7 linked regions of the Homo sapiens genome follow. The protein of the gene in region 6 purifies or fractionates together with the protein of the main gene of each other region. This does not show direct contact. Each region holds a gene or a part of one and is shown on either strand. Other genes may lie near its edges.

What was found.
Region 1: the proteins of TOR1AIP2 (region 6) and SLC25A30 purify together in Homo sapiens (affinity purification with mass spectrometry; 2 studies listed by BioGRID and IntAct, with this or other methods). This does not show direct contact.
Region 2: the proteins of TOR1AIP2 (region 6) and SLC38A10 purify together in Homo sapiens (affinity purification with mass spectrometry; 2 studies listed by BioGRID and IntAct, with this or other methods). This does not show direct contact.
Region 3: the proteins of TOR1AIP2 (region 6) and MTCH1 purify together in Homo sapiens (affinity purification with mass spectrometry; 2 studies listed by BioGRID and IntAct, with this or other methods). This does not show direct contact.
Region 4: the proteins of TOR1AIP2 (region 6) and ACSL4 purify together in Homo sapiens (co-immunoprecipitation; 3 studies listed by BioGRID and IntAct, with this or other methods). This does not show direct contact.
Region 5: the proteins of TOR1AIP2 (region 6) and ENTPD6 purify together in Homo sapiens (co-immunoprecipitation; 2 studies listed by BioGRID and IntAct, with this or other methods). This does not show direct contact.
Region 7: the proteins of TOR1AIP2 (region 6) and NSUN3 purify together in Homo sapiens (affinity purification with mass spectrometry; 2 studies listed by BioGRID and IntAct, with this or other methods). This does not show direct contact.

The regions. Positions count from the first base shown.
Region 1 is NC_000013.11:45,411,874-45,415,373, reverse strand, and holds part of SLC25A30 (kidney mitochondrial carrier protein 1), read left to right. Parts: intron 1-3,435; exon of another isoform or gene 3,436-3,500. UniProt on the Homo sapiens protein: Antiporter that transports inorganic anions (sulfate, sulfite, thiosulfate and phosphate) and, to a lesser extent, a variety of dicarboxylates (e.g. malonate, malate and citramalate) and, even more so, aspartate.
Region 2 is NC_000017.11:81,244,311-81,247,309, reverse strand, and holds the end of SLC38A10 (solute carrier family 38 member 10), read left to right. Parts: intron 1-248; coding exon 249-425; intron 426-636; coding exon 637-1,754; 3' UTR 1,755-2,499; downstream 2,500-2,999. UniProt on the Homo sapiens protein: Facilitates bidirectional transport of amino acids. May act as a glutamate sensor that regulates glutamate-glutamine cycle and mTOR signaling in the brain. The transport mechanism remains to be elucidated.
Region 3 is NC_000006.12:36,972,697-36,976,196, reverse strand, and holds part of MTCH1 (mitochondrial carrier homolog 1), read left to right. Parts: intron 1-479; coding exon 480-539; intron 540-3,400; coding exon 3,401-3,500.
Region 4 is NC_000023.11:109,723,258-109,726,757, reverse strand, and holds part of ACSL4 (long-chain-fatty-acid--CoA ligase 4), read left to right. Parts: intron 1-3,500. UniProt on the Homo sapiens protein: Catalyzes the conversion of long-chain fatty acids to their active form acyl-CoA for both synthesis of cellular lipids, and degradation via beta-oxidation. Preferentially activates arachidonate and eicosapentaenoate as substrates.
Region 5 is NC_000020.11:25,202,212-25,205,711, forward strand, and holds part of ENTPD6 (ectonucleoside triphosphate diphosphohydrolase 6), read left to right. Parts: intron 1-3,500. UniProt on the Homo sapiens protein: Catalyzes the hydrolysis of nucleoside triphosphates and diphosphates in a calcium- or magnesium-dependent manner.
Region 6 is NC_000001.11:179,875,004-179,879,126, reverse strand, and holds the start of TOR1AIP2 (torsin-1A-interacting protein 2), read left to right. Parts: upstream 1-1,323; 5' UTR 1,324-1,434; intron 1,435-1,753; 5' UTR 1,754-1,888; intron 1,889-4,123. UniProt on the Homo sapiens protein: Required for endoplasmic reticulum integrity. Regulates the distribution of TOR1A between the endoplasmic reticulum and the nuclear envelope as well as induces TOR1A, TOR1B and TOR3A ATPase activity.
Region 7 is NC_000003.12:94,125,561-94,129,060, forward strand, and holds part of NSUN3 (tRNA (cytosine(34)-C(5))-methyltransferase, mitochondrial), read left to right. Parts: intron 1-650; coding exon 651-930; 3' UTR 931-3,500. UniProt on the Homo sapiens protein: Mitochondrial tRNA methyltransferase that mediates methylation of cytosine to 5-methylcytosine (m5C) at position 34 of mt-tRNA(Met). mt-tRNA(Met) methylation at cytosine(34) takes place at the wobble position of the anticodon and initiates the formation of 5-formylcytosine (f(5)c) at this position. mt-tRNA(Met) containing the f(5)c modification at the wobble position enables recognition of the AUA codon in addition to the AUG codon, expanding codon recognition in mitochondrial translation.

The sequences.
Region 1 (3,500 bases), on a different chromosome or scaffold from region 6:
ACCAATATTTTTTTAACAGCCCTTGGAAGATAGTGTCTGCAAAGTACTATCTAGAGGAAGGGTCATGTGATCCTTCAGAGAAACCTTAGTTTGAATATTTGGTAGCTTTGACCAGGGAAAGTTACTTTTCTTCTCTGAGGCTGTTTGCTTAGTTGTGAGATGTGGATAATGATACCTCTTTCATAGGACTGTGAAGAAAATGTATAGCAATGCCTAACAGCAGGTATTCAGGGATGACTGCTAGTGTTAGTATTATGTTCATAACGCAGCAAGGAGAAGTAAGGAATTACTGGGTTTTAGCATGGCTTAGAGAACATGGCTGTAAGAGGACTGTCAAATCAGAAGTGATCTACAGCCACTGCCCGACACTGGAATTTCTGCAAAGTTGTAATTCCTTCCCCGAGATGCTGCCCAGACACTATTGACTGCTAAGGACACATTAATCTCTCTAACTGTCTTGGCTTGTCAGCCTTGGGACTTCTGTAGATCCAGTTGGGATTTTTCCAAACAACTGTGTTTGGAATTCAAGGAAGTGTTTCACGAGACTTCCCTTCAGAAAGAGCTCCAAAACAAAGAAATGGGTTAGTTTACTGAACAGAGATTTCAGCCTAAGATACTTATAGCCCTGTCACAGCTTGCTGTGGCCAGTACAGCTTAGTGGACATCTACTTACTTATTCCAGTCCTAACTAGAACCGTTTTCGTGTGTGTGTGTGTGTGTGTGTGTGTGTGTGTGTGTATGTGTGTGTGTGTGTTTGAGACAAAGTTTCGCTTTTGTTGCCCAGGCTGGAATGCAGTGTCAAGATCTTGGCTCACTGCAACTTCCGCCTCCCGGTTTCAAGCGATTCTTCTGCCTCCGCCTCCTGAGTAGCTGGAATTACAGGCACCCGCCACCATGCCTGGCTGAGTTTTGTATTTTTAGCAGAGACTGGGTTTTGCCATGTTGGCCAGGTGGTCTTGAACTCCTGACCTCAGGTGATCCGCCCACCTCGGCCTCCCAAAGTGCTGGGATTACTGACATGAGCCACTGCGCCCGCCCCCTTTTCCTTATTTGGATGTTTGCCCATGTACTGCGGCTCTCTAGTTCATATTTAAGCCAAATTATTCTTTTACTCAGCAAACATTAACTTGATAAGTTCCAGTAATATTAACTGCTTAGGGATCTAGTCCTACCTTTTGGAAAGGAAGAGAAAGGCCAAAAAGTTGTTTTTACCTCCTGACTAGCTAACTTTTAAAAATCGTAATTGAATAGAAGTACTTGCTTATAGGATGCTGATCCAGGAGTGGACACTAATTTGTAGAAAAGTTTTATTGGTGGTACTTCTGAATGAATGGGCATGTGATTCATCCCATGTGATTGAAAACTATGAAGAAGCAATTCCATCACATTTTTAGCTCTAGTTAAGTATTTGCATATTAGTATTAACCCAGAGCCTCTGGATTTTAACCTAACCAACTGAAAACTTAATATCAAAACCGACAGAGGAAAAAGTAGCCAAATCTCATTAAAACTTAACTAGCTGGCCAGGCACGGTGGCTCAGGCCTATAATCCCAGCACTTTGGGAGGCCAAGGCAGGTGGATTACCTGAGGTCAGGAGTTCAAGACCAGCCTGGCCAACATGGCGAAATCCTGTCTCTATTAAAATACAAAATTAGCTGGGTATGGTGGCCCATGCCTGTGATCCCAGCTACTTGGGAGGCTGAGGCAGGGGAATCACTTGAACCTGGGAGGTGGAGGTTGCAGTGAGCTGAGATTGAGCCATTGCATTCCAGCCTGGGGGACAAGAGTGGGACTTTGTCTCAAAAAAAAAAAAAAAAGAGATGGAGTCTGACTCTGTTGGCTAGGCTGGTCTTGAACTCCTAGGCTCAAGCCATCCTTTCAGGAACTACAGATGCGTGCCACTACACCTGGCTTTGTTTTGCTTTTTAATCTGCAATCAGCTAGGTCTAAGAATGGGTTAAGGAAGTTAGTACTGGGTGGTAAATGAATTATTGGATTTATTATTAATAGGTTCTTACAGTCTCTTACAATCTTAACTATTATATGAGTTATGAATTTAATAAGGCTAAGAATTACTTAAGTGCAGTTATTAAATATTTTCAAAGATAATAGGGAGATGAGAGGAGTCTTTTGGGAGAGGGCTTGCTCCTTAGTACTGAAATACCTAAAAACATACAGTGGTTTTCATGTTTCATTCTTACAGAACCTTCTATTTTACTCATTTGTAACTGCTATGAATTTGGTTAATATCCATAAACAAGGAATAATGATTAATAGATTTATTCAAGGTGCCCGATGGGGGGTCCTAGTGTTGGAAACTGATATTCTGGGCAGTGGTGACTTGTGGTAGTCCTCTCCTGGGAAAAGGAGACTTGGGAAATTCCTAAACACAGGCAAAGTAAACATGTTGGCATATTGCTTGCCAATAATGACTGAAAAGTTAGAAATTTTATTTTAAACCAACAGTAGCTATAGTTGATAGTATATATACAAAAGTATTAGTCATATGAGTCTCCTGTTAAGGGGTGTGAGGCCACATTTACCAGCTCTAATTACATACAACTGCAGAACATGTCATGAATGTGAAAGGCCTTAGCTGTGGCACATAAGTACATGTCACAGTGAGCAAGGTCTTATTATGGAAAAGGAAGATGGAGGGCAATATTTGTGAGTGTCTTTAAAATATATATGGCTTAATGCCCACAATAGGCCTACAGCTTGACATTTATTTAACTTAGTGAATAAAAGTATGGATGTCCCCCTAATTGGTTGTGTTGCCTGCTGTGGTGATGATGGTGTTGGCGAAGAAGAAAACCGAGACTCAGGTTAGCAGGAACTTCTCTAGGAAGGGTGTGGGGTGGCTCTGACCCCAGAGTCAGCCTCTTTCCTCATGCCAAACTGCCTCACAGCTGGTAACGTAATAAGGCTAAGAGAAGTGAGCCGATATTTATAGAATGTAGACTACAAGTAGCCTGTGGTGGCTGGGCATAGTGGCTCTCACCTCTTTTCCCAGCACTTTGGGAGGCTAGGGCTGGAAGATTACTTGAGTCCAGGAGTTAGAGACCAGTCTACAAAAAATAAAACAATTAGGCTGGCATGGTGGTGTGTGCCTGTGGTCCCAGGTAGTTGGGAAGCTGAGGTGGGAGGATCACATGAGCCCAGGAGGTTGAGGCTACGGTGAGCCATGTTTGTGCCACTACGCTCTAGTCTTTGTGACAGGGTGAGACCCTGTCTTAAAAAAAAAACAAAAAAAGAAGTAGCTTGTAATTTTAAGTAATTGTCATTTTACCTTATGACACAAGTTTGCAACATTTGTCTGCTGCAGTGCACCTGAGGGATGTGATCCCCACCCCACCCCCCCACCCCCAGTAAGGACTCACTAAGATAGCAGTGAACGAATAGCAAATACTTTTTTTTTTTTTTTTTTGACACAGGGTGTTACTGTGTTGCCCAGGCTGGTCTTGAAATCCTGGGTTGAAACAATTCTCCTACCTTGGCC
Region 2 (2,999 bases), on a different chromosome or scaffold from region 6:
GAGGCCATCCCGGGTGGGCTTCCAGGGGCAGTCAGGGCGCAGCCTCTCCCGGGCCCTCAGGCCTGCGTGCATCACTGAGCTGTCCGGGCTTCACGGTCACAGTCATGATGGGTGTCACCAGTGGCCAGTGTTCGGGCACACTCCCTGCAGGTGACCTGTGCGTTGCCTTGCTGTGGGCCGCGCCGTCCCTGGCCCAGCACGGTGCATGAGCAGCCCGGGCACTCTGACTGTGTGCTTTCCAAACCCAGAAGCTGGCAGGGCGGAGATGCTGGACCACGCCGTCCTGCTTCAGGTGATCAAAGAACAGCAGGTGCAGCAAAAGCGCTTGCTGGACCAGCAGGAGAAGCTGCTGGCGGTGATCGAGGAGCAGCACAAGGAGATCCACCAGCAGAGGCAGGAGGACGAGGAGGATAAACCCAGGCAGGGTAGGCCGGGCTGGCGGATGGAGTGGGGTGGGGCCAGGCAGGGGGTCTCCTGCTGTCCTCATGCGGCTGGGTCTGAGGCTCGGTGGCCTCTAGACCTGAGCGTGAGTCTGGTTTTGGTTCCCAATGCTGTTGTTGCTGGTTCTTCTGAGCCCCTCCACTGGCAGCCTGTGTACAGTGCTGTGGCTAAATTGATGACCGACTTCATTTGCAGTGGAGGTGCATCAAGAGCCCGGGGCAGCGGTGCCCAGAGGCCAGGAGGCCCCTGAAGGCAAGGCCAGGGAGACGGTGGAGAATCTGCCTCCCCTGCCTTTGGACCCTGTCCTCAGAGCTCCTGGGGGCCGCCCTGCTCCATCCCAGGACCTTAACCAGCGCTCCCTGGAGCACTCTGAGGGGCCTGTGGGCAGAGACCCTGCTGGCCCTCCTGACGGCGGCCCTGACACAGAGCCTCGGGCAGCCCAGGCCAAGCTGAGAGATGGCCAGAAGGATGCCGCCCCCAGGGCAGCTGGCACTGTGAAGGAGCTCCCCAAGGGCCCGGAGCAGGTGCCCGTGCCAGACCCCGCCAGGGAAGCCGGGGGCCCAGAGGAGCGCCTCGCAGAGGAATTCCCTGGGCAAAGTCAGGACGTTACTGGCGGTTCCCAAGACAGGAAAAAACCTGGGAAGGAGGTGGCAGCCACTGGCACCAGCATTCTGAAGGAAGCCAACTGGCTCGTGGCAGGGCCAGGAGCAGAGACGGGGGACCCTCGCATGAAGCCCAAGCAAGTGAGCCGAGACCTGGGCCTTGCAGCGGACCTGCCCGGTGGGGCGGAAGGAGCAGCTGCACAGCCCCAGGCTGTGTTACGCCAGCCGGAACTGCGGGTCATCTCTGATGGCGAGCAGGGTGGACAGCAGGGCCACCGGCTGGACCATGGCGGTCACCTGGAGATGAGAAAGGCCCGCGGGGGGGACCATGTGCCTGTGTCCCACGAGCAGCCGAGAGGCGGGGAGGACGCTGCTGTCCAGGAGCCCAGGCAGAGGCCAGAGCCAGAGCTGGGGCTCAAACGAGCTGTCCCGGGGGGCCAGAGGCCGGACAATGCCAAGCCCAACCGGGACCTGAAACTGCAGGCTGGCTCCGACCTCCGGAGGCGACGGCGGGACCTTGGCCCTCATGCAGAGGGTCAGCTGGCCCCGAGGGATGGGGTCATCATTGGCCTTAACCCCCTGCCTGATGTCCAGGTGAACGACCTCCGTGGCGCCCTGGATGCCCAGCTCCGCCAGGCTGCGGGGGGAGCTCTGCAGGTGGTCCACAGCCGGCAGCTTAGACAGGCGCCTGGGCCTCCAGAGGAGTCCTAGCACCTGCTGGCCATGAGGGCCACGCCAGCCACTGCCCTCCTCGGCCAGCAGCAGGTCTGTCTCAGCCGCATCCCAGCCAAACTCTGGAGGTCACACTCGCCTCTCCCCAGGGTTTCATGTCTGAGGCCCTCACCAAGTGTGAGTGACAGTATAAAAGATTCACTGTGGCATCGTTTCCAGAATGTTCTTGCTGTCGTTCTGTTGCAGCTCTTAGTCTGAGGTCCTCTGACCTCTAGACTCTGAGCTCACTCCAGCCTGTGAGGAGAAACGGCCTCCGCTGCGAGCTGGCTGGTGCACTCCCAGGCTCAGGCTGGGGAGCTGCTGCGTCTGTGGTCAGGCCTCCTGCTCCTGCCAGGGAGCACGCGTGGTCTTCGGGTTGAGCTCGGCCGTGCGTGGAGGTGCGCATGGCTGCTCATGGTCCCAACACAGGCTACTGTGAGAGCCAGCATCCAACCCCACGCTTGCAGTGACTCAGAATGATAATTATTATGACTGTTTATCGATGCTTCCCACAGTGTGGTAGAAAGTCTTGAATAAACACTTTTGCCTTCACCCAGCCTCGGTGGATGCTGTTTGGTGTCCAGGAAGCACAGGGAGCAGGGGCCAGACAAGCCGGGTGTCCAGGGGCACTGGCCGGTGCCGCCCTTTGCACTCCTCATGGTTGGCCCAGCCCTCCATTGTCTGTGTTTTTCAAAATCCAATTGTGGCTTTTTTTAAAAAGTAAAAAACACCACTGATAACCTGATTAGTGAAGTTGGTCCTGGGGGAGTGACTGAAAGGAAAGCCTGAGGCCGGCTCAGGATTCCAGATGTGTAAAGCAGAGGCCAGAGGTCATGAGGGAACGGCGCCATGACCTGAGCGTCGCAGTGACTGGACACTAGACGCAGCACAGCCCCAGAGAGACCCTGTGAGCAGGCAGAGCCGCCTGGTGCCAGGAGGTGGTCCAGCCCCCAGGGCCAGGCTGACGGGCGTGCTGCCTCGTGACCAGGACACGCTCCACAGCCCTCTCACCTGGCGGGAGAGAGGAGGTGCTGCTGTGTCCACAGCATCCGAGTCTGCTTTGGCTCGTCCTCTGGGGAGCTTGCGCCCCAACCCTGCCACGAAACCCTGCCACGAAGGGCAGAGGACCAGGGCCTGGGTCTGGGGGAGGCCCGTGTTGGCGAAGGGTCCCTGCATGGAGGGCCGGCCTCAGCCTCTGGTGGTGTCTTCCTGCACCTTTTGATATCCTTTTGGCTCTTTATTATA
Region 3 (3,500 bases), on a different chromosome or scaffold from region 6:
CTCCTGCAGGGCCCTGTATTCTTTCTCTGCCCTCTGGGAAAGTACTTCTCTTTGCTTACTACCCCCTCCTACTCTTACTCTTGGGCGGGCCTGTGGGCTCCTCTGCTAGAGGGTTGTTTAACCAGAGATAAGTGTGAGGGCCGGGTAAGAGAAGGGCCTGCCGCCTCTGCAGCAGTGGCCCAAGTTAGGAGATGCATTCCTAAACTCCTATCTCCCAGAAAACACCAGTAGAGGACTGCTAGTGGGCTGCTCCCATGGGTGGTTGGGCTTCCCCAGTCTCCATGAACTGTGTAAACTCCTCCTCACCCTGAACAAGCGCTCTTTGCCTTTCTACTTGGTTCTTCATGGTAATAGTCCTCCCCATCCCTGCCAGGACTGGCTGGATTTGAGCAGAACTGGTGGGCTCAGCCCCACACCAACGGGTGGGCTTCTGGTAGGTGACTGCATGACCCTGTATCTCTGTCTTGCCTTCTTCACAGTGGTGTGCTGAGCTCCATTGGGAAGATTTTCAAAGAGGAAGGGCTGCTGGGATTCTTCGTGTACGTGAGTTTATACACCCCATAACTGGCCACGGGCATGGCTCTGCTAACAGGTGTGTCCTCAACCTCTCAGACCGCAGCTGCTGGCCTGGGACTTCACTACATGGCCCTGCCCTAGCCTGAGTGCTGCAGCCAGCTCTCCAGAGCTCCATAGCGTGTCCAAGCTGCTTAGCCCTTTTCAGGCCATGGCTCATGTAAAAGTGGAACTGTGTGTCTAGTACATGGGGGAGATGAACTGACCAGCCCCACTGGGCCTCATCCAGTTGTGGTGGGTGTGGGGCTGGTCTTCATGAGCTAAGTCACTGCATAGTCCTTGGCCTCACTGCTAAAACATGACTGAAAATCTGACTTGGACTGAGGGTGGAGCTCTGGAAGCTCACAGGCTGACCACAGCCAGTGGATTCTGTTTGACATTGCTTTTCTGACAAATTAGTTGTTGCCGTTAACATTTAAGATATGTTGCACAAAAATCCACATGTCTGGCATCTCTTGAAAAGCCAGAAAATCTTGTCCTGCTGAGCGGTTCTTTCTGTAGAGCATCCATCGGCCAGGACCCAGGACCTGCTTCTTTGGCAGGGCACATGGTCTCCGAGGGCCGCAGACACCCTGTACTTCGTCACGTCACATCCAGTGTACTTCACCTCTAAAGAAAGCACATACTGAAAAGACTAAGTTCAGAAAGAATAAGGTGCAGACAGAAGCCAGGCTTGATGAGTTGTATTTTGATTTGCCGTTTTAAGGTCTAGGCAGTGACATACATGCTGATAAGTATGTCACAAACGTGGTAGACACATGGTATACAACAGTATCCGCTGTACTAGATACAGGGCTCCATATTATTCATAAGAAGTCTTTATATCATGGTTTTCCGGTTTGTGAGATGTTTTTTATTTATGGCCCCTTGTTTAACCAATTAGTGACTACTTGTAGGTGCATGTGTGTGTATATGATATAGAAATATATATACGGTTCTCAGCAGGAGGTGATTTTGCTCCCCGGGGAACATCGGCAGTGTCCGGAGACATCTTGTGGTTGTCACAACTGGCATCTAGTGGGTAGAGGCCAGAGACGCTGCTAAACATCCTACAGTACACAGGACAGCCCCGCAACAAAGACTTATTCAGTCAGGTGTCGTTGCTTGCATCTGTGATCCCAGTTAGTTGGGATTAGTCTCAGTGGTTTCTGCAGCTGTCAGGAGACCAAGGCGGGAGGATTACTTGAGGCCAGGAGTTCAAGACCAGCCTGAGCAACATAGTGAGACTTCTGTCTCTACAAAAATGTTTTTAAAAATTAGTTGGCCGTGGCGGCATGCACCTGTAGTCCTAGCTACCCGGGAGGCTGAGGTGGGAGGATGGCTTGAGCCCAGGAGTTGGAGACTGCAGTGAGCTATGATTGCACCACTGCACTCCAGCCTGGGTGATAGAGTGAGACCCTGTCTCTTGGGGAAAAAAAAAATTATTCAGCCCAAAATGTCAATAGTGCCAAGGTTGAGAAACTCTGATTTATATTCACACACACACATATATGTATGTGTAAGTATTTATACATACATATATTTGCACATGTACCTGGTAACAAACCAACATTTGTGACATACCTATCAGCATGTATGTCACCGCCTAGACCTTAAAACAGCAAGTCAAAAAACAACTCATCAAGCCTGGCTTCTGGGTTCTGTCTGTGCTTTATTCTTTCTGAACATAGTCTTTTCAGTATGTGCTTTCTTTAGAGGTGAAGTAAGTTGGATGTGAGGTGACAAAGTGCAGGGCATCTGTGGCCCTCAGGGACCATGTGCCCTGCCAAAGGGGCAGCCCCGGGACCCCAGCCAATGGCTGCTCTACAGAAACAGCCACCCATCTTGAAACACTGCACATGACCACCTCTGGCATTTTTCACACTGCGTAGTTCTCTTCTGGTGTTTGAATAGGATTCCCGCACAACAGATGCCTACTCTTTGGGTTCTTTCTCCCCATGTGATTTTGGAACAGGTGATACTCATACATGTTACAGTGCATAGAAAGCACCAAAGGGTATAGCACAAAGTCAATCTGAGCACAGGCAGGGACGACAAGATTAGAAATTGCATTCACAGAGGTTCCTTTTATTAATACTCTTCATAGATGTATTACATATATTCTTTTGAGTTTTTCAAATATAAGATTTTTTTTTTTAATTCAAAAACAAAAATTCTGCTTCTCCTCCCAGGAGACAGCCATCCTTCTCCTGGCGAGCCTCCCAGGGCACTCTGTACCTAAACAAGCAAACACATTGTAAAAAACACAAGAGGCACATGGGACTCACTGACCTCAAACTGGCCTTTTGCCCTCAGCACTGCATCTTGGGGAACCTTCCTTAGCAGTTTATAGAGCTGTTTATCCTAAAGGCCATCACTTAAAAAGTTAGCCCTCCTTGTAAATGCTTGCATAGAATCTTTTTGATAGAATATTTTCAGGGGCAAAGAGAACAGATGCATTGAGCAGTGTGTCTTCTGAGAGTTGGTTAGGTAAAGAGGCCAGGAGAAAATTACCAACACGTCGGCACTCTTATTATCTGCATTTGGAAATTCCAAATTTGGCAGTATTCACATCTTGATCCCTGGCTTCTGTGGTTTGAAAACTGCTTGAGACTATTAGCTAATTTATGGCATCCAAAGCGGCATAGAACACCTCCCCATGGGAAAAGGAGCACTATCTTCCCAGTGTGCATAGCTGCTGGACCCTGCAGGCCTCCTTTCTAAGGCTGTGCCATTGGATATGCTAAGATTTTGAGCTCGGAACATCCCTGCCTGCTTCCTGGGTGTGGAGCCCCCAGGAACTGCTCCTCTCCCTCTCCTGCTCATCTCTGCTTACCTTGTTTTTTAGTGGATTAATCCCTCACCTCCTGGGCGATGTGGTTTTCTTGTGGGGCTGTAACCTGCTGGCCCACTTCATCAATGCCTACCTGGTGGATGACAGCGTGAGT
Region 4 (3,500 bases), on a different chromosome or scaffold from region 6:
GCAGAGAGCTATGATTGCACCACTGCACTCTGGCCTGGGTGATAGAGCGAGACCCTGTCTCAAAAAATAAATAAATAAAATAAATAAAAATGAAAAAGCTTCTACATATGCATTAGAAGCTTTAATTGACCTCCACTTAATTGACTCACCACATTGAATAATTTTTATTTCCTTTGTAAAATACAGTGTACACTGAATACTTGGTATTAGTTGGTTGATCTCCAGTACTCCAGCGTGCTTGTTTACCTACCAGTACAGTAAATTTTTTTACTACTAAACCTGTATATGTTGGTTGTATTTGTTTTTTTGTTTGTTGGTTGGTTTGTTTGTTTTTGAGATGGAGTTTTGCTCTTGTTGCCCAGGCTGGAGTGCAATGGTGCAATCTCGGCTCACTGCAACCTCTGCCTCCTGGGTTCAAGCAATTCTCCTGCCTTAGCCTCCCGAGTAGCTGGGATTATAGGTGCCCACCACCATGCCTGGCTAATTTTTTTTGTATTTTTAGTAGAGACGGGGTTTTGCCATGTTGGCCAGGCTGGTCTTGAACTCCTGACCTCAGGTGATCCACTTGCCTCAGCCTCCCAGAATGCTGGGATTACAGGCGTGAGCCACCGTGCTAAGCCTGCTTGTATTTGTTTTTAAAAGGTAATTTGTTTAATATGTTGTAACCTGACAATATATGAGTGGGGGAGATTGGAGTTCTTTTTACTGAAAATTTACAAATGAAATAATATGATGTCTGGGATTTGCTTAACATTATACAAGGGGTGAGGGATGGAGGTGGGTTGTGGGTAGTATGGAAGAAACACAATTCAGCACATATGAATAACTGTTGAAGCTGGGTGATGGTTACATTAGATTCATTATGATGAAACAAATTGTTTTGAGAAGAGTTAATGAAAACAAGTTGCAAAAAAAAATACTGTCCGCTTAAATGTGGGTAAGATGACTATACAAGATACGTGGAAAAAATATAAAAATCTAAAAGAGTTTTATTTTATTTTATTTTATTTTATTTTTTGAGATGGAGTCTCGCTCTTTTGCCCAGGCTGGAGTGCAGTGGCGTGATCTCGGCTCACTGTAAGCTCCACCTCCCGGGTTCACGCCATTCTCCTGACTACAGGCGCCCTCCACCACACCTGGCTAATTTTTTTGTATTTTTAGTAGAGACAGGGTTTCACCGTGTTAGCCAGGATGGTCTCGATCTCCTGACCTCGTGATCCGCCCGCCTTGGCCTCCCAGAGTGCTGGGGTTATAGGTGTGAGCCACCGCACCAGCCATCTAAAAGGGTTTTATACTCACATTACTTGTCAAATGTAAAATCAATGGGCCTGGAGTTAGAGAAAAAGGTCTTGGCCTCTTGGCCCCATATAGAAAGTTTGAGGCTGGCATGGTGGCTCATGCTTGTAATCCCAACATTTTAGGGGGCCAAAGCAGGAGGATTGCTTGAAGCCAGTTCAAGACCAGCCTGAGCAACATAGCAAGACCCTGTCTCAAAAAAAAAAAAAAAAAATAGCTGGGTGTGGTGGCACACACCTGTAGTCCCCAGTCACTCAGGAGGCTGAGACAGGAGGATTGCTTGAGGCCAGGAGTTCAAGGTTGCAGTGAGTCATGATCACACCACTGCATTCCAACCTGGGAGACAGAGTGAGATCCTGTCTTTAAATAAAAAAACAAAACAAAACAAAAACAAAAAAAACCCCAGGTCAGGTACAGTGCGTCATGCCTGTAATCCCAGCACTTTGGAAGGCCAAGGCAGGCAGATCTCTTGAGGCCAGGAGTTTGAGACCAGCCTGGGCAACATGGTGAAACCCCATCTCTACAGAAAATTTTTATTATTATTATTATTGAGACGGAATCTCGCTCTGTCGCCCAGGCTGGAGTGCAGTGGCATGATCTCGGCTCACTACAACCTCCGTCTCACAGATTCAAGCGATTCTTCTGCCTCAGCCACCCGAGTAGCTGGGATTACAGGTGCCCACCACCACACCCGGCTAATTTTTGTATTTTTAGTAGAGATGAGGTTTCGCCATGTTGGCCAGGCTGGTCTCAAACTCCTGACCTCAAGTGATCTGCCTGCCTCAGCTTCCCAAAGTGCTGAGACTACAGGCGTGAGCCACCACGCCTAGCCCAAAAAATACAAAAATTTAGTTGGGCATGGTGCCATGTGCCTATGGTTCCAACTACTGGGGAAGCTGAGGTGGGAGGATTGCTTGAGCCCAGTAGGTGGAGGTTGTAGTGAACTATGATCACTCACGTCATTGCATTCCACCCTGGGTGACAGAGTGAGACCTTGTCTCAAAAAAACAAAAACAAAAATTAGCCAGGCATGGTGATGCACAACTGTAGTCCCAGATACTTGGGAGGCTGTGGCAGGAGGATAGCTTGTGCCCGGGAGGCAGAGGTTGCAGCGATCCAAGGTCACTCCACTGCATTCCAGCCTGGGCATCAGAGCAAAACCCTGTCTCAGAAACAAACAAAAAAACAAAAAAGCCCCCCAAAAATAAATAAACCAAAACCACACACACACAAAGTTTGTTGAATGAGTATATATATACCACTGATGAAAGGAAGGTGAAATGTTTGCCATACATATTTTTATGATCGTTTACCTGAAATTAACCTTTTAAATTACATAACCAATTGTTCTAAATCACATTAGATAAAAGGGTTTCTACTGCATAATATCCATAATATATAAAGAGCTCCTAAAGATCAATAAGAGAAAGGTACCCACTACAAAAAGCAAAAAGTGGCAGAAGATTATACATGGGCATTTCCCAGGAAAAGAAGTACTGGTGAATAAAAAAGAAAAGATGTTCAAATTGACTCTGGTTATTAGGGAAATGTAAACCGTTTTTCACCAGACAGATTGGCAAGAACTTAATATCCACTTTTAACAAATAGGCATTTGCATACACTGTTAATGAGAGTTCACATGTATAACTCTTTGCTGAAGAATACCAAAATCATCTCATTTTTAAATGTGCATACATTTTGACCCAATAGTTTTATTAGAAAACAATTCTAGGGAAATATTACATGTGTATAAAACTATGTATAAGGTTTCGCTGCAGTGAAACTGTTTGTAACTGTGAAAATTTGGCAGTATCCTAAATATCCATCAGTAGGGAATGATTTAAATAATGGTAAGTTATACTGTGGAATACCATTGAGTTATTAAATAAAAAAAGAAGAAAAGCCTCTTGGTTAGACATATATATACACTGACATAGGAGTTCCAAAGTATGCTGTTAAGCAGGGGAAGAGAGGGGGAGGGAGTCAAAGAACAGTTGTATACCATAATTCCACTTATCTAAAAATAAACCCTTATCATGTGTATGGGTAATACAAAACAATCTGATTGATACACATCAAGAGTAATTATCCCTAGAGGAAAAGAGAGTGGTGTTAGAGGAGGGCAGTATAGTTTTACTTTTTCTCTGTACAATTCTATATTATATATTATAATTTACAATTACAATTTTGATAGTAGGTATGCA
Region 5 (3,500 bases), on a different chromosome or scaffold from region 6:
GAAAGGTTGATCTTGCTGTCTCAGAGGTGGCAGGAGTGGAAGAAAATCTGGATATAAGTAGACCTGTGCAGTTCAAACCCATGTTGTTTGAGGGTCAGCTGTAGTCAGGTCTTGTTTTTTAATCTATTCTGTCAATCTGTGTCTCTTGATTAAGGAGTTAATCCATTTATATTTAAAGTAATTACTCATAGGGAAGGACTTGTTTTTGATGTTTTGTTATTTATATATATTTTATAGCTTTTTTTGTCCTTCATTACTACCTTATTTTGTATTTAGTTGATTATTTGTAGTTTCCGTTTTTGATTCCCTTCTCAGTTCCTTTTGTGTATATGCTACAGACATTTCCATTGTGGTTACAACCATAGGGATTACATACATAACAGCCTGAAGTTATAGCAATCTATTTTAAATTGATATCAACTTAATTTCAGTCAGACACAGTAACCTCTCCTTTACAATTCCATCTACCCCCACTTTGTTATTGATGTCACAGATTACATCTATATATATTGGGTATGTACCCATTAACATAAACCTGTAATTATTTTTATGCATATATCTTTTAAATCCTGAAGAAAATATTAAGTAGTGTTGCAGACCAATTGTACACTAATACTAGTTTCTATATTTGTCCCTCCATTTGCCTTTGCTGGAAATGTTTGTATTTTCTTACAGCTTTTAGCTGCTGTCTAGTGCCCTTTTGTTTTAACTTTCAGGACTCCCTTTAGTAGTCTGGTAGGGCAGATCTAGTGGCAATGAACACGCACATCTTTTATTAATCTGGAAGTGTCTTAATTTCTCCCTCATTTGTGAAGGACAGTTTTGCTGAATGTAGAATTCTCTGTTGACAGATTTTTTTGTTTGTTTGTTTTAGCAGTTTGGGGGTATCTTCCCACTGCCTCTGGCCTCTGAGGTTTCTGCTAAGACATTGGCTAACAGTGTTATTGAGGATTCTTTGTACATCATGAGCCATTCTTTTGCTGCTTTCAATATTCTGCCTTTGTCTTTACACAGTTTGATTATATTGTGTCTTCATGTTGGTCTCTTTGGGTTTATCTTACGTGGGGTTTACTGAGCTTCTTGGATGTTTATATTCATGTCTTTAGTCAAATTTGGGAGGTTTTTAGCTATTCTTTCTTCACATAATTTCTCTGCCCCATTCTCTCTTCTCTTTCTTAGATTTCCATAATGTGCATGGTGCACGTGAGGGAGGCCCCTAAGTCCCTGAGGCTCTGCTCACTTTCCTCATTCTTTTTGTTCCTCTGACTTGATATTTTCAAATGTGCTATGTTGAAGTTTGCTGATTCTTCTACCGACTCAAATCCCTCTGGTCAGAGTTTTCAGTTCAGTTTTGTATTTCTCAGCTCCACAATTTCTGTTTGATTCCTTTTTATAATTTCTCATTTTGTTGTCATATGTTATTTTCTTGATTTCTTTTCATTCTTTATCTGTTTTCCTTCAGCTCTTTTAGCATATTTAAGACAGTCATTTTTAGTCTTGGTCAAGTACATCCAGTGCCTGCATTTCTTCAGGGATGGGTTCTGCCACTTCATTTTCTTCCTCTGAATGAGCTGTGTTTTCCTGTTTCTTTGTATGCCGTGTGATTTTTTTGCTGAACATTGGGCATTTGAAAAACAGCTCCTTGTCCCAGTCTTTGAAGACTAACTCTGTATTGGGAATGGCCCCCACCAAATAGCAGGATCTGCCTAAGTGTGGGGATCAGCTCTGGATGAAGGCCAAAGTTTCCTCTGGTTTCTTCTGAGGATGCATCTTCCCTGGGCCTGTGTATGTGTTTTTTTCAATTTCCCCATATTCGTGGCTGTTTCAAAATCTCTTACTTTCATTATGAATACTTTCAAGCTTCCCTTTGGAATATACCAAGAAATGCATTTGGAGTAACCTTTGTTTTTCTATCATTGTAAATTTAGATTCTGGAATTGGGGTTTGGTGGTGTGATGTGTTGCTCACATGTGGCCAGAACTCCTGCTCCTAAAAGGACTTTGAGATCAAGGAACACATATTTAATCTCCCCTTTATGCCTTGGTTTTAGTTCCTCTTTCCAAGTTGAATAACCAATTTTTCATTGCTGTTTGGTTTAAGTTGGTGCTTTGAAGCTTAATCTCAGTACCCTTAACTCTGAATTATCGAATTTTGATAAAAATGTGTGCCCTTATTTTTTGGTAAGAGAAAGCAGGTCTTAATGTCTGCCGGAACACAATTTATTTGCCTTGTTGGCTCCATTAAACTTTTACAAAGCTTTATATATATATATATATATCTTACTTTCTCAAAGTCTCCCCCAGTCCCTCCTTGGGCCTCAGATGTTCTACTGTATTTCTCACCTGTCATTCTTGCCCCAGGTATGCGTGGGGCTATAGTCATCCTACAGCTTTGCCTAGCAGTGCCCATAACCATTTCCCTGACTTCCTATCTGGGCTCTGAGCTCAGAGTCAGGTGAAACAGAGATCTGTTCCTCAGGCAGCCCAAGACAGATTAGGATGTTGCAGAAAGGTCCGCTCTGCTCCCTCCAGTTCAAGGGAAGGAATTGGGAACCGGGCTGCCGCATTCATCAGGTGGTGCCATGCTGGGGAGGCCTGGGGCAGGGGTGAGTGAAACACCTCAGAGTTCCTGACATCCTGAATGTGGCTGCTTCTGGGCTGGGCATTCTCTTGGTTGCTGTAGATCGTTGCCTGTTTTGCAGAGCTCCTATGCAATATTTTAACCAGTCTCTAGTTGTTTTTAGTGTTTCTCTGTGGGGGAACAAGGGCCTTTGAGCTTCCTCTTTTGCCGTCTTGCTGTGTCCTCTCCCTGTTTATGGATTTTCTACAGGACTCTGTTGTGTGTCTGGTGACGTTATAGAAGGTGCGGGGGTAGAGGAGCAGCCTCTTCCATTCTAGAGAAGGGCTTGGATGCCATGCTGGGCAGCAGCAGCACAAGACAAGCTGAGTCCCTGCCCTGGGGGCTCATGGCCTAGTGGGGAGACACAGACCTACAGGAATCAGGTCTATGAATACTGGTTTCATCACTGCTGGTGGTGGGTAAAGGGAGCTCAGAGAGTGCGTGATGGGGCATGTGCAGGTTGGGGGCATCCGGGAAGGGGGTGGCAGTGACATTTCAGTGGAGGTTTCAGAATGAAGACACGGTGCCAGTGTGGTGGGACAAGTATTCTGGGAATGCGTATCAGTCTGTGCCAGGGGCCTGAGGCAGGGAGAGGCTGAGTTCTAGGGGCAGAAGAAGGCACTGTTCTCAGAGCACTGTGGGCAAGGACGAAAGAGGAGTGCGATGAAGCCACAGGGGCCAGCAGGGACAGGGGCCGGCAGGGACAGGCCCAGGCAGAGGCTGCAACATGATCCTGAGAGCTGTGGGAAGCCCCCGAGTGTGGTGGGACCCAGGCCCAGAATAGGGCTGGGGAGGGGCTGCACGTTGGCACCTGCCAGGAGAGGCTTTTTGCAGCCCTGCCCGTGGCAGATGCTCAGGGAAGGGTGGTTTTTCCTGTCTCC
Region 6 (4,123 bases):
AGAACAATAAATTTTTTGTACAGGAACTTTTTGCTTTAGGGTAAGCAGAAGTTCATTTATTTAAAGAGATAAATCTATCCGTTGTGACTTAGTAGTACAAATGAAGTAGGCAAACAATTTTAATAAGGAAAAGATGATTAAAATATTAAACAGGAGGAAGTTAATTAAAGACATAGTAGCTGGCTCCATTTATTCCCCAGTCTTACAAATGATAGAAAAATATTTTAATGACAATACAAATGAAAATTCCTGGAAATGTTATACTGAAATTAATTAAACACAATAAAGTGAATGGAATATAGTATTCTTTTTGTTGAATTAGGACTTGCAGTTAATTATTAAACACCATCCAAGAGTGTTACCAAATCCTGTCACTTCTGCCAAGAGAGGGTGATTGAGAAGTGAAGGCACCAAAAATCACATTAAATGAGGAATTATTAATTCAATAAATACTTGAGCTACTGTGTAGTAGGCAGTCCCTGTTCTCTGTGCTGGGGATACAGCAGTGAACAAAATAGACTAAAAGACAAAAAATGTTTCCTGCCTTCTTGGAGATTATATTCTATGGGAGGAGTCGGGCAAAAATCAAAATAAGTAAAATAGTGTGTTGGTCAGGACTGTTATGGGAAAAAAAAGAGGAAAGGGGAAGGGAGTTTTACATGAATAGATTTCTTCTTGAAATTTGGTTAGATTTGTCCTGAATTGCTGTAGGTCAAGAACAGGAATTTTAGACTTACTTCATTTTTCCCCCAACAAATTGTATGTTCTTGGGTAAATTGCTCGCCATCTCTTAATTTTCACATTTATAAAATTAGTAGATCAAAACAGCTATTTTTTGTCACTACTGTCATTTAACAGAAATGCTGCATACGTCATCTAATCTACTAATAACAAACTTATGAGGTAAGTAACGTTGTCCCCATTTGACACACGAGCAAACTGAGGTTTAGATTAGGCAACTCATTGGATTACATGCTCCTCTTAATGGCACAGAGGGTGTGTTCCAGGACATGGTGCTTGCCATTATCATTTGGTACTGCTGCTCACTGTGTTGGTCCTATGAGTTTCTTCAGTCTATGAATTTCAGGTCAGGGTGGTCGACGTCTTACAGAGATGCCTGTAATCCTGTCAGCATGAGATTGCATGGGACCTCTGCGGTTTGGTCGCGCATTTACCGCGCCTGTCGCTGGGTCAGACGACCTGGCAGTAGAGGGTGAAGGATGGAGAAGGCAGAAGGCAGGGCACGGAGACTACTAGTCCCAGGATTCCACGGGCGCCTTCCGGCGGAAAGTGTTTGTCATATGGGCGGGGACCCTGGACGACATTCGGGCCGCGGCGGCCGCTGGGTGCAGCCGAGCGGTGTGGAGCGGAGAGAATACTCGAAGGGCTCTCCTGATACTAACAGTTTTACGATTTAAAACTTCGCCAGAATTTGTAAGTAAACAAAATGACTATGCAGCTTTTCCATGTTTTAGTATTGAAACTGATATCTTGAATTTTTGAAAAGGACTTTCAGAAACGGTCCCTCCCCACCCCCACCTTCGTACCGCACAAATGGTATTTTTATTTTTATTGTTTTTGAGACAGGTACTTGCCCTGTCACCGAGGCTAGAGTACAGTGGCGTGATCATAGCTCACCACAGCCTCATACTTCTGGGCTCAAGGGATCCTCCCGCCTCAGCCTCCCAAGTAGCTGGAACTACAGGCCCGCACCACCATGCCCTACTAATTACTTTATTTTTTATTTTTATAGCGACAGGGTCTCACTGTATTGCCCAGGTTGGTCTCGAACTCCTGGCTTCAAGCGATTCTCCCACCTCAGCCTCCCAAAGTGCTGGGATTACAGGCGTGAGCCACCACGCCTGGCCTCACTCAAACAGTAAACGAGGTAGGTTGGGGGTATATTTTTGTTTTGGGATAAAAAGAAACTGAATCTTATAAATATTAAATGGGTTAAGATGTGAGTAAATTTTTGGGTTTAGACTTTAAGGTGAGAAGCCGAATTATTTTAGGGTTCGAAATGTGAGTGGGAAATTTGCCTACTAGTGTAGGCGGCGATTACTCCATTCCCAACATGCCTAGGTTCTCGACATTCATAATCTTAATCCTGAAAAGATAATACTTAAAAAAAAAAAAAATTGGTGCTAAAAAGGGCAAAGTTGAAGTTTTAGTAAGACCTCCTACCATTTTGCTTACATATTATATATGTACCATTCTCCCAATTGTATTTAATACCTGATGAAAAAGTTTGTGCCTTTTCCTTCTTTTAACAAATTTCATAGTACTCTCTACTTTATGAGTAATGCTTAATTATCAGACTTTATACTGTTACACAGATCCAGAAATGAGTTACATAGATTAAACATACTGGCTTTGTTTTACCTGTCTTTAGGTTTTAACACATTTTATTTTGGATCTGTATGAGAGATCCTTTCTTTGTTTTAAGCTGTGGCAGTTATCCATGTTTTTTGAGCTTTTTTTTTTGAGCACAAGATGAGGATATAAAAGGCCAGTGGAAACATTTAATAAAAAAAGGAACTTCATGGTAGAGTAACTACAGATGTTTTTGGAAGACTTTGTGTGGATTAGAATAGTTTGAAAAACTAACATTTGTTATGAAAACTGAGTGCCTGTCTTCAGTAATGTTTATTATGCTGAACGTGCAGTCCACAACTTGATTACCTGTTTTTCTGCTGGTTTGTTACGCAACCTTGCGTGACTCATTTAAGAACTATTTTATCTAGTTTCTTTCCTAATGTAGAGGTAATGCTAGCTTGAGAGCTTCAATAATTTATAAATAAATTAACTTCAGAATGTAGCTAATTATTTGAGGATTATTGGGTGTTTTAATAATGTATTGTATCTTGTATATAACTTATTTTTGCCTAAGAAGTAATTTCTGTATTCCATTCATTTCCATGGAACACAGAAGTCAAAATTCTATTCCAGGAAAGTCCACACTTCTTTGAAGTGCCACTTGAATTTCCTGAAGGAATGTTTGCTTCAAAAAGCCTTGTCTGCTTTATCACTTTGAGGTTGTTCACTAAGTCAACTGTGAAGGCCCATAAACTTGGAGATTCGACAACTTCCAAAAAAATTTAAAGAATGAAGAATTGGCTGTTTTATTTACCATTTAGAATTTTGATTGTGTTAAAATTTCATTAATATTTCTACATCATATGAACTACTGGATTAAACTGTGTCCTACAAGAAGGAATTCATAGGGCGATCATATATTACCATAAATTTTGCACAGAAATCAAGCACTTGGGAATAAGGAAGCGTGTCCCTAACATTGGTAATGAGCATAGACTGGAGTCATAGCTGGGTTTGAATTCCTATTTTGTTACTGTGTGGGCTGTTTTCCTCTTTACTAATATTTAAAGGAGCTGGCACATGATTTTTTTTTTTTTGGTGCCATGGCTCTGGTATGAACTGTGCACATAATTTTGGTAATCGAAATTTCTGGGAAGAAAATTCACCTATAACTCCACTACCTCAACAAATCAAATTGTTTGATTTTTAGAGATTTTCCTTCAGCCCTTGACCATGAGTATCTATCATGTAAATGTAATGACATTTTTGGAAAAAGTCAAATTTTGAAACATTGGTGTCTTCTGGGGTTTTAATTATATAAATGAAGCTGTCTGGTTTTGCCTTTAATAGTTCAAATAATAATTATTTACGGTTTTTGAGGACTTCTTTTGTGCCCCTGTGGTTGCCAGTATTGCACATTATCTCATTTGATCTTCACACTGCCTCTTTCATCTAAGTACTATTATTCCATTTTGTAATTAAGAAAACCAAGGAAAAAATTAGCCAGGGGCTGGGTGCAGTGGCTCACGCCTATAGTCCCAGCACTTTGGGAGGCCAAGGTGGGTGGATCACTTGAGGTCAGGAGTTTGAGACCAACCTGGCCAACATGGTGAAACCCTGTCCCTACTAAAAATACAAAGAAATTAGCTGGGCGTGGTGGCGGGCACCTGTAATCCCAGCTTCTCGGGAGGCTTGAGGCAGGAGAATCATTTGAACCTGGGAGGCGGAGGTTACAGTGAGCTGAGTACGCGCCATTGCACTCCAGCCTGGGCGACAGAGCGAGACTCCATCTCAAAAACAAAACAAA
Region 7 (3,500 bases), on a different chromosome or scaffold from region 6:
GACTTCTTATGTATGCTTTCATATGTATGCTTTGTTTTTATTTTTACTCCCATCGATTTAAAGACAAACTCATTATTCTGTTCTCTACCCCTATTTTCCTACTTTTTGAATAGCAATCAACCAGTCTAACTTACTCTATCTTTTCCATGTTGATTGGTCTGATTATCATTTTCCAAGTCTTCAAGGATAAGTTAGAAAGAAATAGGTGTAAGATCAGAGATTGGGCACAGTGGCTCACGCCTGTAATCCCAACACTTTGGGAGGCTAAAGCAGGCGATCACTTGAGATCAGGAGTTCAAGACCAGCCTGACCAACTTGGTGAAACCCCGTCTCTACTAAAAATACAAAAATTAGCTGGGCATGGTGGAGGCCGCCTGTAATCCCAGCTACTTGGGAGGCTGAGGCAGGAGAATTACTTGAACCTGGGAGGCAGTCATCGCAGTGAGCCGAGATGGCATCACTGCACTCCAGCCTGGGTGACAAAGTTAGACTCTGTCTCAAAAAAAAAAAAAAGACTAGAAAACATCCAAAGTAATTGCAGTCTAAGTCAGAGTAAGGTTAGTTTTAAGTACGTAATCTTTGCTGTCAGACCCCCTGGTTTCTTTTTAATATACTTAACTAATCTTTTGCATTTTTCTGATTGCACACAGGTCTGCAATTAAGGCCTTACGTCCTGGAGGGATACTTGTATACTCTACATGCACGCTTTCCAAGGCAGAAAATCAAGATGTGATCAGTGAAATTTTAAACTCCCACGGTAACATCATGCCTATGGACATTAAAGGAATAGCAAGGACTTGCTCCCACGACTTCACATTTGCTCCCACTGGCCAGGAATGTGGGCTCTTAGTGATTCCAGATAAGGGCAAAGCCTGGGGCCCAATGTATGTAGCCAAATTGAAGAAATCATGGAGCACAGGAAAATGGTGACATGAATTTGTAAACTGTGTTTATGTGTTATTATATTTATATTTCTGAACTCAGTACATGTTAATATTTAAATAATTATGCAGTAACTTTCTCTGGGTCTGTTTGGAATCCTATTTAGTTAATACTTTAGCATCTTAGAATCTAGGCTTGAGAATTGTTCAGGTGTATTTTTTTCCTAGAAATATATCTGTAACAATGATTTAAGGTGGTGCAGATGGTGTTTGTTCTATATTATAAATCTGCTGTCTTTGCTTGGCATTTTATAGTTAAATTAATTAGAATATGTGGTTTTATGCATAACGTGTTTAGTTCTGTATTCTTTCTATGATAGTGCTTTGAACCTTCAAAAATTCACATTTTCCAGCGCTCCGACCATTTTCCCGCTTATCAAATGTACAAATTTGTTCAAGGTTTTTTTTTCCCCCCAACTTTTGTAACTGATTGTCTCAGAACTGATTGGTATTCTGAGACTAACTTTTTAAGCAGCACTATTTCTAGTTCTGGCAAAATAGTTTTTTTATTTGCAATGTTGTTTTCTGTTAAAGACTATATTATGTTTACTGCAAAGGTCAGTGACTCTACTGACACCAGCTTTATTTCCCCCACTTTTTTTGCATTCACAAATACAAATTGAAAGGGTAAATTATATTGAAAGGCCTTTAGAACAGCAGATTCACATGCACATGTTTGACTTTCGACATTCAGCTTATAGAATTATGGAGTCTATCCAGCAGGCTATAAAGCAAGTACTTGAGACAAAACCGGAATGATTAATAACTGCAATCACTGAACTATATTTGGAGAGTTTTGTTACATAATTGCAGTCATAATGAGCACTACAGAATCTGATTATCTTACATTCACAATCTGGAGGGGCTTTTTATTTCACTTTGTTATAAAATGTTCTCTGAGAATATGATGCCACATATTAATGCACAAGAGGGAGATGCCTAATGAGAGTGGACTGTGTGATTACCAGAACCCAGTGCCATTTACTAAGTGGCTCTCCATGTTTACATAAATCCTGGGAATACTGTATACATTTCTTCTTATGTACTTAGGGTTTTAGCTTCAGTCAGCATCACACTTTTTCTCCAGAAATTACTTCACTTAGAGTACAAACATATTTTTCCAACTATTAAGAAAAATTATGCAGCACATCTCAAAAAATAGCATCTCTTTGGAAAATAGCCTTTAAAAAAAAACAACTTTATCTGATTATAGAAATACAAAATTCTGCTAAAGCTGAATACTTTTGAATTGTTCATTATGTTCTGTGCCTTTAAACTAGAGACTATTTGCTTATTAATATTTTTTGTTTTGCAAGCATATGTAACCCGGTTTATATCATCAGGAAGTCTTAGGAAGAATTTTTTTTTCTGTACCTTCAGTCTGTTAATCATTTGTTTTCCTTTATGTCCAATTGATATGTTTAAAGTAAAGCTAAAGTCCAGGCACGGTGGCTTATGCCTGTAATCCCAGCACTTTGTCAGGCCGAGGCAGGGGGCATCTCCTGAGGTCAGAAGTTCGAGACTAGCCTGCCCAACATGGTAAAACCCCGACTCTACTAAAAATGCAAAAAAATTAGACAGGCATGGTGGCTGGCACCAGCAATCCCAGCTACTTAGGAGGCTGAGGCAGGAGAATCACTTGAACCCAGGAGGCAGAGGTTGCAGTTAGCCAAGATCTCGCCATTGCACTCCAGCCTGGGCGACAAGAGTGAAACCCCGTAGCAAAAAAATAATAATAATAGTAATTAAATAAAAATAAAGTAACGCTAGAACTGTTGGACCAAATCAAGTATATGGGTAAATACAGAAGAATAATGATGGTGGAAAAGATGTTTTCTTTTTTAAGTTATCATTATTAGTTTGTTTTTTTTATCTTCAGACACTATAGGTTTTAAAAATAGGTTTCTTTTATGTAGGTTAATCACAGAGTAAATCTGCACACTGTACTTTGTTAAATGTCGGTATTTTCCCAGTATAATGCGATGAAGCTTAATCTGAATACTTGGTATGCTATTGAATTTACTTTCCTATGATTACTGAAAAATGGATGCACGTGTGTGTGTGTGTGTGTGTGTGTGTGTGTATATATATATATATATATAATTTTATTAAAAGCAATTGCCCCAAAAGCAGAAATTGACAAGCGGGACCTAATTAAACTGAAGAGCTTCTGCACAGCAAACTAAACTATCAACAGAGTAGCAGACAACTTACAGGATGGGAGAAATATTTGCAAATTATGCATCTGCCAAAGGTCTAATATCCAGAATCTATAAGGAACTTAAATCAGCAAGCAAAAAACAAATAACCCTATTAAAAACTGAGCAAAGGACATGAACAGACATTTCTCAAAAGAAGACATTCACATGGCCAACAAACATATGAAAAAGTGCTCTTCATCACTAATCATCAGAGAAATGCAAATCAAAACCACACTGAGATAATATTTTACACCAGTCAGAATGGCTATTATTAAAAAGTCAATAAAATAAAAAATAACAGACGCTGATGAGGCTGTGGAGAAAAGGAACTGCTTATGAACTGTTGGTGGAAATGTAA